4 linked regions of the Homo sapiens genome follow. The protein of the gene in region 4 purifies or fractionates together with the protein of the main gene of each other region. This does not show direct contact. Each region holds a gene or a part of one and is shown on either strand. Other genes may lie near its edges.

Evidence for each region.
Region 1: the proteins of FAM234A (region 4) and TUBGCP3 purify together in Homo sapiens (affinity purification with mass spectrometry; one large-scale study listed by BioGRID and IntAct). This does not show direct contact.
Region 2: the proteins of FAM234A (region 4) and THADA purify together in Homo sapiens (affinity purification with mass spectrometry; one large-scale study listed by BioGRID and IntAct). This does not show direct contact.
Region 3: the proteins of FAM234A (region 4) and DNAAF5 purify together in Homo sapiens (affinity purification with mass spectrometry; one large-scale study listed by BioGRID and IntAct). This does not show direct contact.

What each region holds. Positions count from the first base shown.
Region 1 is NC_000013.11:112,484,511-112,487,153, reverse strand, and holds the end of TUBGCP3 (gamma-tubulin complex component 3), read left to right. Parts: intron 1-1,002; coding exon 1,003-1,161; 3' UTR 1,162-2,143; downstream 2,144-2,643. UniProt on the Homo sapiens protein: Component of the gamma-tubulin ring complex (gTuRC) which mediates microtubule nucleation.
Region 2 is NC_000002.12:43,230,351-43,233,194, forward strand, and holds the end of THADA (tRNA (32-2'-O)-methyltransferase regulator THADA), read right to left. Parts: intron 2,533-2,844; coding exon 2,363-2,532; intron 994-2,362; coding exon 598-993; 3' UTR 501-597; downstream 1-500. UniProt on the Homo sapiens protein: Together with methyltransferase FTSJ1, methylates the 2'-O-ribose of nucleotides at position 32 of the anticodon loop of substrate tRNAs.
Region 3 is NC_000007.14:754,199-757,698, reverse strand, and holds part of DNAAF5 (dynein axonemal assembly factor 5), read right to left. Parts: intron 3,111-3,500; coding exon 2,878-3,110; intron 918-2,877; coding exon 705-917; intron 1-704. UniProt on the Homo sapiens protein: Cytoplasmic protein involved in the delivery of the dynein machinery to the motile cilium.
Region 4 is NC_000016.10:251,821-255,320, reverse strand, and holds part of FAM234A (protein FAM234A), read right to left. Parts: intron 1,489-3,500; exon of another isoform or gene 1,392-1,488; intron 993-1,391; exon of another isoform or gene 941-992; 5' UTR 908-940; coding exon 640-907; intron 1-639.

The DNA of each region.
Region 1 (2,643 bases), on a different chromosome or scaffold from region 4:
AATATAACTTCTTAGGCGTGTTCTTCTTCCCTCACCTAAAAAGGCAGTGATACACACACACACACACACAGACACACACACACACACACACACACACACATACACAGTGTTTGCCTGCTCAGAGGTGAAGTTACTTTATCAACACAGCAGAGCCTGTGCCCAGGCCTGCCTGTGAGCTTCAGCATTCGTGTTTCTGACCAGAAGCTGGGAAGGGGCAGTGACAGCTGGTGAAGACTTGGGCGGGGCTTGGTGAGGACGCAGTGCCTCAGTGAGTTTTCTCTGCAGATGAGGCCTTTCCAGGCCAGCAGTTCTGTGAACAGATCAGCACCCCGTGGCATGCAGCAGGCTCCAGCACTGGGCGGGGATGGGCCTGTACTCAGTATGCAAGTCTTTCAGCCTGAAATAGAAGCAGCCAGTCCTTTCGTCTTATCAGAGTTAGGGGAAACTTCTGTCACATCTTTAAAAACGCCCTCAGTAACAGGATGATGGCGATGCCAGTGCCCATGAAGAGGGCGGCTGCAGCCTCACGTCCAGCAGCTAGACCCAAAGACCCGACTGATGCTCTCAATTTGTTCTCCAGCAAGGGCTCTAGGATGAAATCCTCTTTCATGAGTCATATGAAAGATGAAATATGTGGCACTGAGTTTTGTATTCAAAATAGAATGTTCTAACATCTGTTACTTTGCTGTTTTGCTTATTCTTGTGGAACTTAAGAACAAAGTGAAAAAACCTGTTGGTTAGTTGTTTTCAAATCAAATGTATTCTTCACTAATTTGTCCTTGTAAAAGGGCGCCCATTCCTAATGCAGGTGCACTGGCCGTGTGCACTCCAGGGTCCCAGCAGCTCTTGCTCCCTGGACACCTGCCCTGGTGGGCATTTACTAAGGGCCTGTTGATCTGGAAGGAAAAACAGACCCAACCCAAAGGAGATTAAGGTCCGGGGAATACGTTTGTGGGTTGTTCTTTTCTGAAACAATATTTTACTCCTTTTGCTTCTTTTTAGGGTATCGTGCAGCAGTTTTTGGTGTTACTGACGACCAGCTCTGACGAGAGTCTTCGGTTTCTTAGCTTCAGGCTGGACTTCAACGAGCATTACAAAGCCAGGGAGCCCAGGCTCCGTGTGTCTCTGGGTACCAGGGGGCGGCGCAGCTCCCACACGTGAAGCTCGCGGTCCTCCCAGGGAGCTGCGGGTGATGTTCGTTGCACTGCTAGACACGAAATTCCCATTGACGTCCTGCAGGAACTGCATGCTGCAGGTGTCCTGCCCTTCCGCCCACGAGTGCGCCATGTTTCAGCGGAGCGGCGTGTGGGAGAAGCCACGTCGTGTTTCACATGTCGGAGTCGAATGCATTTGTAAATCCCTAAGTCAAGTAGGCTGGCTGCACTGTTCACATTTGTCTCTAAAAGTCTTCATCGCTAAAAGATACCATAATTTGCTGAGGCTTCTTAAGCTTTCTATGTTATAATTTATATTTGTCACTTTAAAAAATCCATTTCTTTTAGAAAAAATTAGGGTGATAGGATATTCATTAGTTAAGATGGTAACGTCATTGCTATTTTTTTAACATCCTCTTTAGAGGTAATTTTTGTTAACATAACCAAAAATTAAATTGAAACAAAATGTCCCAACTAAGAAAATATATAGAGCATTTTATTTTTTTTTAGTGTTGTAAAATATTAACCTCTGTGAGATCCTTTGTATCTTAATGCATTACCTTTACACATATTTATTCTTATTTTCTCTCCTTTCAGAGTTTACATTTTTATATTTAATTTACTATTTCAGATTTTTAAAATAGTATAGAAAAAAGTAGGAGTGATAGAGAACAAAAATACTCTTATACAGTGCAACCCAAATACCGCGAATGCATCAGCTAAAGCAGCGTGTAAATAGGAGTGACGAGAAAGTTAATGGAGTATTTTATTTTCAAAGTTCCTGATAAGCATTGGAAAGAAATCGACATGGATAATGAAGATTTCCTTTTTCCTTGCCTATTTTTTCATTGTAAATATTTATATACTACTGACCAAGATGTTGGGGTGGGGGGGATTGTTTTTTGTAAAAATGTCATTATCAGGTCACATAAATCTGCCTTTATGTTGCATAAGTGAAAATTTAGAAAATTAAAAGCAATTATCTTTCAGATGCATTCGTTATTTCTTGAGTAGTTTATGAAGGGACAGTTTACTTGCTGGATTTGGGGGTTGAGGGTTGGTAGAATTTGATTTAATATAGTACAGCATATGAATTATTTAATCAGTGAAACCAGGAAAGTAGACTTTGTGTGACTTTTGGTATAGAAGCAAAGGCAATGTCACCGCTCAGGTCTCAGGAGCGGTGCTTTAGTTATCTGAATCCACCTCTGACTCCTTTAGGTGTGGATTACCTTTAAAACTAAAGGGGCTGTCAGGAATCCTGGCCATGCAGAAATGAATTCATGGCAAAGGCCAGAAATTCAATGTAATTTTAGTTTTGAAGTTCATAAAATCAGAAATTTGAAACAGGTTTTTCTACTGCAAGGTTTTTTAGAAATTATTGCATATTGTTTATCTCCACGAGAGGTTTACCAAGGTAATTGACCATGCAGCCAGCTTTTATTTTATTTTATTCAGAGAGTTGTTCCAGGGATTAATCCTCAGTAGA
Region 2 (2,844 bases), on a different chromosome or scaffold from region 4:
TTGAATAATTAGGATGGAATGTGTAGGTCACTGCAGGACTTAACACATGCAGACAATAAAAATAAATTATTTGTGCAAAGTTGATCCTGAATTCTCCCAGGATCCAACATTTGGAACATATTTCTGCTTTGCTAAAATGGAACAAAATTCACAAATCTGACCAAATGGGCTGTTTGCCAACTAATCCAGCCCCTACATAAAGCCAGAAAAGGGGAGAGGGGAGGGATCATGTGTATGTGCTAAAATCCAACTCTCTGTAGTCATTTCACAGAGAATGCAGGGCGGCTATGGCAGGGCATTAGAGGCCCTGGGGGATGAAAAAGGCTCATTCAGGCCTGCAGGTGGCCTGCACCTGGGGACAGAGTAAATCTGCAACGGAGTCGCCTCACTTCCTACAGTAGCAGCAATAAAATAGGCTGCCCTGAATGAGTGAACTGAAGAAAAGTTTCTCTGTAAGGAGTGACAGACGACTGGACTCACAGAAGTAGGGGAGGCATGAATGGGATAAAATTTTTGAATTTATGTTCAACATGTTTCCTGCAGATTTAGTGGAGGAAAAATCCACACATACCCCCATCCCAATCCCCCAGATTTTCTTCAACATGCCGCTTCTGTTCTTGGAAGAGTTAACTGCCTCGATTCTGCATAAGAGTCCCAAACACTGAGAACTAGGGTGTCTTCCCCTTCCTTTCCTTCCAAAAAGGCCAGCAGCCTCAAGCAAGCCAAAGTCCTTTCCTCTTGAATGCGTAGTCTTGTGAACTCCACTGTCTTCACAAACTCAGCAGCTGGTGGAAGCTCTCTGAAGAACTGAGACAGGAGGTGGCACTGCTCTGACACCATCCTTTGAAGGTGACAGAGCATCTCAGGGCTTGGGGGACGCCAGCCGGACTTTGAGAGGAGACAGAAGAGGTGCTTGCAGAGGTATTTCACAAAGATCAGGGTCTCGGCCCAAAAGTTGACTTCTGCTTTTTCAAACAGGTAGTCTTCTTCCACCTAAATCAGATGAAAAAGCCGAAAGTCAGTCTTACAGGGAATGGTGACAAGCCCCAGTCCAGACCAAGCAGTACCCTGCCAGATGCAAGAGGGGTTTCCCTTCCCCCACCTGACAGAGGGTGCACTCTTGCCTGTCAACATCCATGTACACACACCACTTGCAGCCTTGAAGGTCACCTTCTATTTTCACTCACTGTATTTCTCCACCAGAGAGGAATTTTTTCCCCAGACTTAACATGACCTTGGATAAAGATGTGTTTGTGGTTCAAAGTCAAGATACTTTGGGGGATGGATGCTGAAAAGGGGACTTCAACAAGGGAGTGGGCTCTAGAGTTTAAGGTGCAGCTGGAAATTGGAGAGGAGGGAGGAAAGGTCATCTCTGCAGCAGGCCAGAGAGGAAGGAATCTCCAAACACAGGACACTAGGCTGTGTCCTGTTTCTATAACACTGTGATTCTCAAGGTCCTTTTGTCAGACACTTACCATGTCTCCAAATTTCTCATAAAGAGGGACAATGCGTTTTGAACCCTTGGCCTGCTGGGGATGCCAAGAAGGCCAGCTGAGTCAGATGCTGGTGGCGATCAATTTCAGTTCTCAGGATGCTTTTGCTGCTTGTCTTTGTCCTCAGTTTCCCTATCTGTGACTGCACCCACCCTGGAGGGGGCTAATAATAGTTTTCTTCAAGCAGGAAGTTCCCAGCAAAGATCCTAATTCTCTGAAAATGCTTCACCCTCAGACCTAACTTTGGGAAGCCCCAGGCTAACTCCAATACTGACTAACAAGCAGTCTCCATAATAAAACTCTCCGCATCCAGGGGCTTCTTTTTTTCTTTTCTTTTCTTTTCTTTTTTTTTTGAGATGGAGTCTTGCTCTGTTGCCCAGGCTGGAGTGCAGTGGTGCAATCTCGGCTCACTGCAACCTCCGCCTCCCAGGTTCACGCCATTCTCCTGCCTCAGCCTCCCGAGTAGCTGGGACTACAGGCACCCACCACCATGCCCGGCTAATTTTTTGTATTTTTAGTAGAGACGGGGTTTCACCGTGTTAGCCAGGATGGTCTCGATCTCCTGACCTCATGATCCGCCTGCCTTGGCCTCCCAAAGTGCTGGGATTACAAGCATGAGCCGCTGTGCCCGGCCAGGGGCTTCTTTCCGAGTTCTCTCCCCTGGCTAAGCTGGAGGCTGACCATCAGCACCCCAGAAGTCAGCCTAAGAGTGTCCCCGTGTCCTCGGCAGCACCCAGTGGGTGACTTTCCTAGTGGTTCCTGCTCTGTGTCTAAGCATGCAAAAGCCCAGCTGAGGCTGTAGGTGCTGCATCTAGCGGGTTTAGGACACTCCAACCCTGCCTCCTACTCCCCTGACACCCCGGGATCACCTGATGCATGCTCTCCACACAGGCCACGAGGTCATCACTCTCTCCCAACAGCCATCCCAGCAGGATGGGCAGTCCAGGGGCCAACTGGTCCCACTGCTGGAGCAGATCACACAGGACGGCCAGGGCCAGGGCCAGAGCGATGGAGGCATCCACCTGGCAGAAGGCAAACTCTGCAAAGACAGGAGAAAGGTGAGCAATGAATATACTGCTCAGGGCCGACCCCAGGGCAGCCTGCAGGACCCTGGGAACAATAAAGGCCTCAGGTAAAATCGCTGCCACCAGCCTGGCAGGGAAGCTGGTAGGGTGGGCTCACTGGAGACGATTAATCACCTTCTGAATCCTGCTATTTATACTGTTAGAATGAGTCATAGGCCTGAACCCACTGTTTCCATGCCCCCTAACTCAGTGTGGACAGAAGCAGTTCCATCTGCAGGATTAGAGAGTTATCTCCCCTCTGCTCCTCCAGTGTCACCAGAAGGATC
Region 3 (3,500 bases), on a different chromosome or scaffold from region 4:
AGCAAAGCCATCACCTCTTCTTCCATGGAATACAACTATGGATTATTCCAAACAATTGAGCCCAACTACCCAGGCTGTTCCAGCTTCTGAGCTCAAGGATTTGCTGCTCAATTTAAAATTAAACAAATGTCTCTGGCAAATCCTCAGCTGGGCTGTGAGAAGCACAGATCGGAACGCCAGGCAGGGCTGATGGGGAACAGGCTGTCAGTGCCCCCTGAGGACGTGCGATCTGTGCAGGTACCCTGGGGACTGGATGGGATGGTGGACGTGCGACCACGCTCCTCAGGGGTGGGATGACGTGGACCCCACATCTACCCCCAGCAGCATGGGCCAGAGGGTCCCGGCCATGGACGCCTCCTGAGTCATCAAACACGTGAACTGTGGTGTGTGGCCAAGAAAGGGGCAGCAACGAATGTAAACGTGAGCGGCCGCCTGCAGCTGGGGCTGGGGCTGGGGCTGGAGCTCTGCACAGCCCAGGACGAGGCCCCGGAACAAGGGCTATCAGCGAGGGCACTCCGGTTACTGCAGGTGTTTCCGATGGCCCGGCCTGGCGGCACGGGGCGGACCCACAGACACGTCGCTGGGTGCTTCCGACAGCCCAGCCTGGCGGCACAGGGCAACCCACAGACATGTCATTACGATGGCTGACGGCCGGGCAGGGGAGGCTCCTCCTCTCCACTCCCGCATCTCCCAAGTGCTCTTACGTTTTCAGATGCCTGGCAGATGTGGGCCTGTGCCAGCTCTGTGGCGATGGCTGCCAGGTGCGGCTGGAGGGCTTCTCGGGGGCAACCCCGCATGGCGGAGGCCAGCACCAGGAGGCCGGAGGCAGAGGGCGTCTTCTTCAGCGTCGATAAGATCAGCTTCAGAAACACCTCAGGGCTGACAAACGTCCCGACGAGCTCTGCGGATCTGGTACACTGCGAGAAAGAAACATGAGAAAACTCAGAGCCAAACCCGAGGGTCTCAGCCGGGCTCCTGCTCTCGGCGCCGTGGCCTCCCAGACACAGCCGTGCACCAGACAGAGCCCCGTGTTAGGCAGAGTGAGTCCTTGGCACATGCTCAGAGCCCTCAGGAAAGGTACAAGGGTCCGGGTGTGGTCTCAGAACGTCCCTGAGGCCAGCGAGCCGGACACGCCTCCCAGGCAGTGAAGTCTGGCCCAAAGGATGCTGTGTCCCAGCTGTGGGGTTCACCACACACCCCTCATCGGACACCAGTGACCCAACCTTCCCATCACTAAGCTGATCAATACACACCAGCCCCTCTGTACCGTGGAAGCCCACAGTGGATCACACACTCACCAGCCCCTCTGCACCGTGGGATTCCACAGTGGACACCACACACCAGCCCCTCTGCACCGTGGGATTCCACAGCGGATCACACACACACCAGCCCCTCTGCACTGTGGGATTCCACAGCGGATCACACACACACCAGCCCCTCTGCACCATGGGATTCCACAGTGGACACCACACACCAGCCCCTCTGCACCATGGGATTCCACAGCGGATCACACACACACCAGCCCCTCTGCACCGTGGGATTCCACAGCGGATCACACACACACCAGCCCCTCTGCACCATGGGATTCCACAGTGGATCACACACACACCAGCCCCTCTGCACCGTGGGATTCCACAGCGGATCACACATACACCAGCCCCTCTGCACCGTGGGATTTCACACCGGATCACACACACCAGCCCCTCTGCACTGTGGGATTCCACAGTGGATCACACACACACCAGCCCCTCTGCACCGTGGGATTCCACAGCGGATCCCACACACGTCTCTCGTCCTCTCAGCCTCACCCCCGTGTCTCTTGCTCTCCTGTAGGTTCCACAGAGAACTACAGACAATTTTAAATTCACGGTAGTTTTTGAAAAGCAGAAACATGACATGTAAATAACATGGAACCTGGAACATTTACTTTAAATCAGTCACAATGATTTAGATTTTTTTGTTTTATCTGAGACAGCGTCTCATTCCGTCGCCCAGGCTGGAGAGTAGTGGCGCAATCATAGCTCACTGAGGCCTCAAACTCCCGGGCTCAAGCGATCCTCCCACCTCAGCCTCCCGGGAGCTGGAACCACAGGTGCACGCCACTACGCTGGGCTAGTAACAGTGACCTGGACCACTAGAAGTAAAAGCTGCTGGCCAGGCTACCTTGCAATGGAATTTAAGGTTCAAGATGAGGATATTTTCAACTGAAATCTCAAGTCAAAGCTTTAGTTGTTCTCCTGAGCACTAGGAAGCATCCTTGTGAGGTGGGTGTGAAGTCCTCATGGTGGTGACTGTCAGCGCAGGGCGTGGCCCGGCCTAGTGAGGAGGAGAGGCCTGAGCATGGGACTCCCTCGTGCGTACCCAGTGGTGACGAGGCGATAACCAGCAGCCGAGTGTGGACAGGGAGTGAGAAAGAGGACTGCACCAGGGACACCACTCGCAGGACACCCGAAGCTGTGCCATCATCCCCCGTCTGGGTGCTCCCACAGCCCCTGCGAGGCCTGGAAGGGCCCTCAGGACAGTCCAGATGTCAATGCTGAACGCTGGGCATCTCGGTCCTGTGTCAGCAGCCCGGGCCCTGTCTGTCTGGTGCACGGCACGTCTACACAACACGTCTACACAACATGCACCTGGCACTGCACCCCCGAGTGTGCTTGAAAATGAGCATGAAGGGTTCACCCTCAACACGCTGTTACCTACGGGCACAGAAAGGAGATCAGTTGTTCCCAGGGGCTGGGTGTGGGGAGGGCCTGCGGCCCGGGGGTGAGGGGAACGCTGTCTTGGCTACAGTACAGCCTCGGGCCCCGCACACCACAGAGGCGGGATCTTAAGCTCGAGTTACAGCTCCGCGACCACGACTGGAATACGGCCACTTACACTTTGGACCACGGCTGCCTCCTCGTCGGTGCAGGCCTGGAACAGGGTCCGGAGGACGACCTCCAGGTGCTGCGTGGCGTGGTCCTCGGCATGCAGCAGCAGCACTGGGAGCAGCTGTGCCGACTTCACTCGGGTCCCCACCACCCAGTCGGTGATGTCGTGGCACAGGGCAGGGAGGATCTTGGAGAGGTTCCTGAAGACGAGCTCCCGGCAGCCCAGCACAGGGCGGCGCTCTGGAACGAAAAAGGGAAAGAAGAATGAGAAATTCACAAGCAAAACCTCAACAACTCAAGTTACCGCACATCACATTTAAGGGACACCTGTGAGTTTCAACCTCACCATTTCAAAACAAGTCTTGGGGTGGACGCAAAGCTGACAAATGCCCCGTCGTTCAGAACATTCACAGAGGCGGTGCACGGCTGCAGTCCTAGCCCTGTGGAGGCCAAGGCAGGTGGATCACTAGAGCCCAGGAAGTCAAGACCAGCCTGGGCAACATGGCAAAGACCCCATCTCTATAAAAAACAGGAAGATTAGCCAGGTGCCGTGGTGCATGCCTGTGGTCCCAGCTACGCAGGAGTCTGAGGTGGGAGGATTGCGCCACAGCACTCCAGCCTGGGTGACAG
Region 4 (3,500 bases):
CTCTACAAACTGACTACAAATCACTGAATTGGGCCAGGTGTGGTGACTTACACCTGTAATCCCAGCACGTTGGGAGGCCGAGGGAGGAGGATGACTTAAAATCAGGAGTTCAAGAGCAGCCTGGCTAACATGGTAAAACCCCATCTTTACCAAAAATACAAAATTAGGGCCAGGCGCTGTGGCTCACGCCTGTAATCTCAGCACTTTGGGAGGCTGAGGCGGGCGGATCACGAGCTCAGGAGTTCGAGACCACCCTGACCAACATGGTGAAACCCGGTCTCTACTAAAAATACAAATATTAGCTGGGCGTGGTGCTGCACGCCTGTAATCCCAGCTATTTGGGAGGCTGAGGCGGGAGAATCGCTTGAACTCCGGAGGCAGAAGTAGCGGTGAGCTGAGATTGTGCCAGTGCACTCCAGCCTGGGCAACAAGAGCGAAACTCCATCTCAAAAATAAAAAGGCTGGTCTATCGCTCCCTAAAACTCCGGGAAAACCTTGGACATAGAACTGGCAGCCTCTTGGGATTGATTCACTGTTTAAAGGCCACTTCTAGACTCGCAGACACAGTTCTGCCCCCTCCGCCCCATCCCCTGGGAAGAGCTGCTTTGGACCCCACTGGGCGGGGAAGCCGAGGCTCACCAGCGGCACTGTAGTCTATCCTCCACATTCGCTGTGACGCCGGCCGGTCTGGACACGGGATGACGAATGAGACGACGAACACCACAAAAAGGCAGAGAAACAATGAAAGAAAAAACGCCGCCGCTCGGCACCGGGAGAGCCGGGACTGTGGAGGCGCGCTTTTCACGTTATCCTCATTTTTTGATGGATTTCCCAGATTTTCCTGCGATTTTCTTTCTTCATTTTTCAAGGGGTGGATTTCGGCCTCTAAGTCCTTGTGGTCCAACATCACGGGCACATCCCAAAGTTTAACTCCTGGTCACTGTGTCGATAAAGCAAGAGGTCGGCGAGGCCAGCAGTCCCACGGCACAAAGCTGCAGCACAGAGGGGTCTGCTGGCGTCGGCTTCTTGGGGACTGGCTGCAGCTCTAACTATGGGCCACCAGCCCAGGAAATAAAAGCTAAATAAATGTTTAGGGTGTCAGTCTTAACAGATTATACTTAAGAAGGTCTCTAATTAGTGTGGAAAGGCGAGTTAGCTGTGGAGAGCCAGCAGGCAGGAACTATTTTCATCCAGAACACGCTGGTGCTTCCTGCCTGCCGAACCCAGGAAATGCTCAATGAGCTCCAGGGCAGTGTTAACTAAGCCCCACCTACTCAGCCTCTGAGCATATCTGAGCCACCTTCCACCAGCCTCAAGCACAGATGGAAAAGGTGACCCAGGTGCGCACACATGGACTCCCTGGAGGGCCACAGACCCAAAATTCAAAGTACCCGGAGTGAAGATGGGCTCTGGGCGGGCAGGCTTGCACCTCCCTAGCTGTGTGACCAGGACATGTGCTTTGACTGAACTGTGCCTCAGTTTCCTTATCTGTAAAACAAACAATATCTACTTTAGAAGCCTGTTCTAAGGATTAAATAATTAAATGTAGCCGGGCGTGGTGGCTCACACCTGTAATCCCAGTACTTTGGCAGGCCGAGGCGTGCGGATCACGAGGTCAGGAGATCAAGACCATCCTGGCTAACTCGGTGAAACCCCATCTCTACTAAAAATACAAAAAATTAGCAGGGCACGGTGGCGGGCACCTGTAGTCCCAGCTACTTGGGAGGCTGAGGCTGGAGAATGGCGTGAACCCGGGAGGCGGAGCTTGCAGTGAGCCGAGATCACGCCAGTGCACTCCAGCCTGGGCGACAGAGTGACACTCCGTCTCAAAAAAAAAAATTAAATGCATATAAAGTACTTATAAGATCATATGATACACAGTAAACATTCAAACACTACCTAATTATTATTAATAAAATATGTTCATGGATAAGCACAGACTAACTAGAAAAAAATAAAATAAAATATATTCAAACAGAAGTCCGCAGGGGAGGACAGGGGACAGCTGTGTTGAGTGAGCTCGGTGCTGGGAGTAACTTCTGAGCCCCAATTCTGAGGGGAAAAACATGCCCTCTCCTTCCCCTGGTTCCTGCTGGCCGGACCGGGGGTGGATGCGGTGGGGAAACCGGCAGTCGCCGTCTTAGAAACCAAAACGGAAAACACATTTGAACATGGGAAAGGCACAGGGCCCCTGATATCTGCCAACCACCACCACCCAGCCTGAGCTGCTTCGACTGTATAAAACGAGAAAAAAACAAACTTCCATTTTGTCTCAGGCAAGATTTTTGTTATTTTGGTTCCTTTTAAACAACCAAACCGATGTCCTAACACATCATACTGAGAGACTGGACGTGATCATGCAGATTTGAGGTAAAACCTTCACCTACCCAAAAAGGAAGTCAACAGTTCACAGCAAAGGGAGGGGTGAAAGATGAAAGAGGGCGTGCGGAGGTCAGCGAGGGAAGGCGAGGAAAAGCTGAGCTGAAAGCCGCACCCTCTGGGGAAGGGTCAGGAAGACAGAGAGATAAGGGACTGCTGGCTTTTGTTTTAAACTGTTCACTCGGACTTTGTCTTTGCCTAATTATATAATAAAAGTAACTCACTTAATAACCTGTGTATGACACTAGAATGGCTTTAATTTTAAAAGGGAAAAACGACGAGTCTGGGTGAGGATGTGGAGAAATCAGAACATCGTACGTTGCTGGTGGGACTGTAAAATGATGCCGCTGCTGTGAAACACAGTCTGGCAGATCCTCAAAAAGTTAAACACAGAACTACCATACTCTCCAGCAAGTCCAGTCCTAGGTGTACACCCACAAGAATTAAAAACAGACTTTCCGGCCGGGCACGGTGGCTCACGGCTGTAATCCCAGCACTTTTGAGAGGCCGAGGCAGGCAGATCACAAGGTCAAGAGATTGAGACCATCCTGGACAACATGGTGAAAACCGCATCTCTACTAAAAATACAAAAATTAGCTGGGCATGGTGGCGGGCGCCTGTAGTCCCAGCTACTCGGGAGGCTGAGGCAGGAGAATGGCTTGAACCTGGGAGGCAGAGGTTGTAGTGAGCCAAGATCGCGCCACTGCACTCCAGCCTGGGCGACAGTGAGACTCTGTCTCAAAAAAAAAAAAAAAACAAAAAACAGAAAAACAGAGACATGGCCAGCACGGTGGCTCATGCCTGTAATGCCAGTACTTTGGGAGGCCAAAGCAGGAGGATCCCTTGAGGATTGCTCGAGGCTGCAGTGAGCTCTGATCATGCCACCGCACTCTAGCCTGGGCAACAGAGAGACCCATCTCTTTTTTTTTTTTTTTTTTTGAGACGGAGTCTCATTCTGTCGCCCAGGCTAGAGTGCAGTGGCATGATCTTGGCTCACTGTAAGCTCTGCCTCCCCCGTTCACACCATTCTCCTGCCTCAGCCTCCCGAATAGCTGGGACTATGGGCGTCCGCCACCATGCCTGGCTAATTTTTTGTATTTTTAGTAGAGATGGGGTTTCAC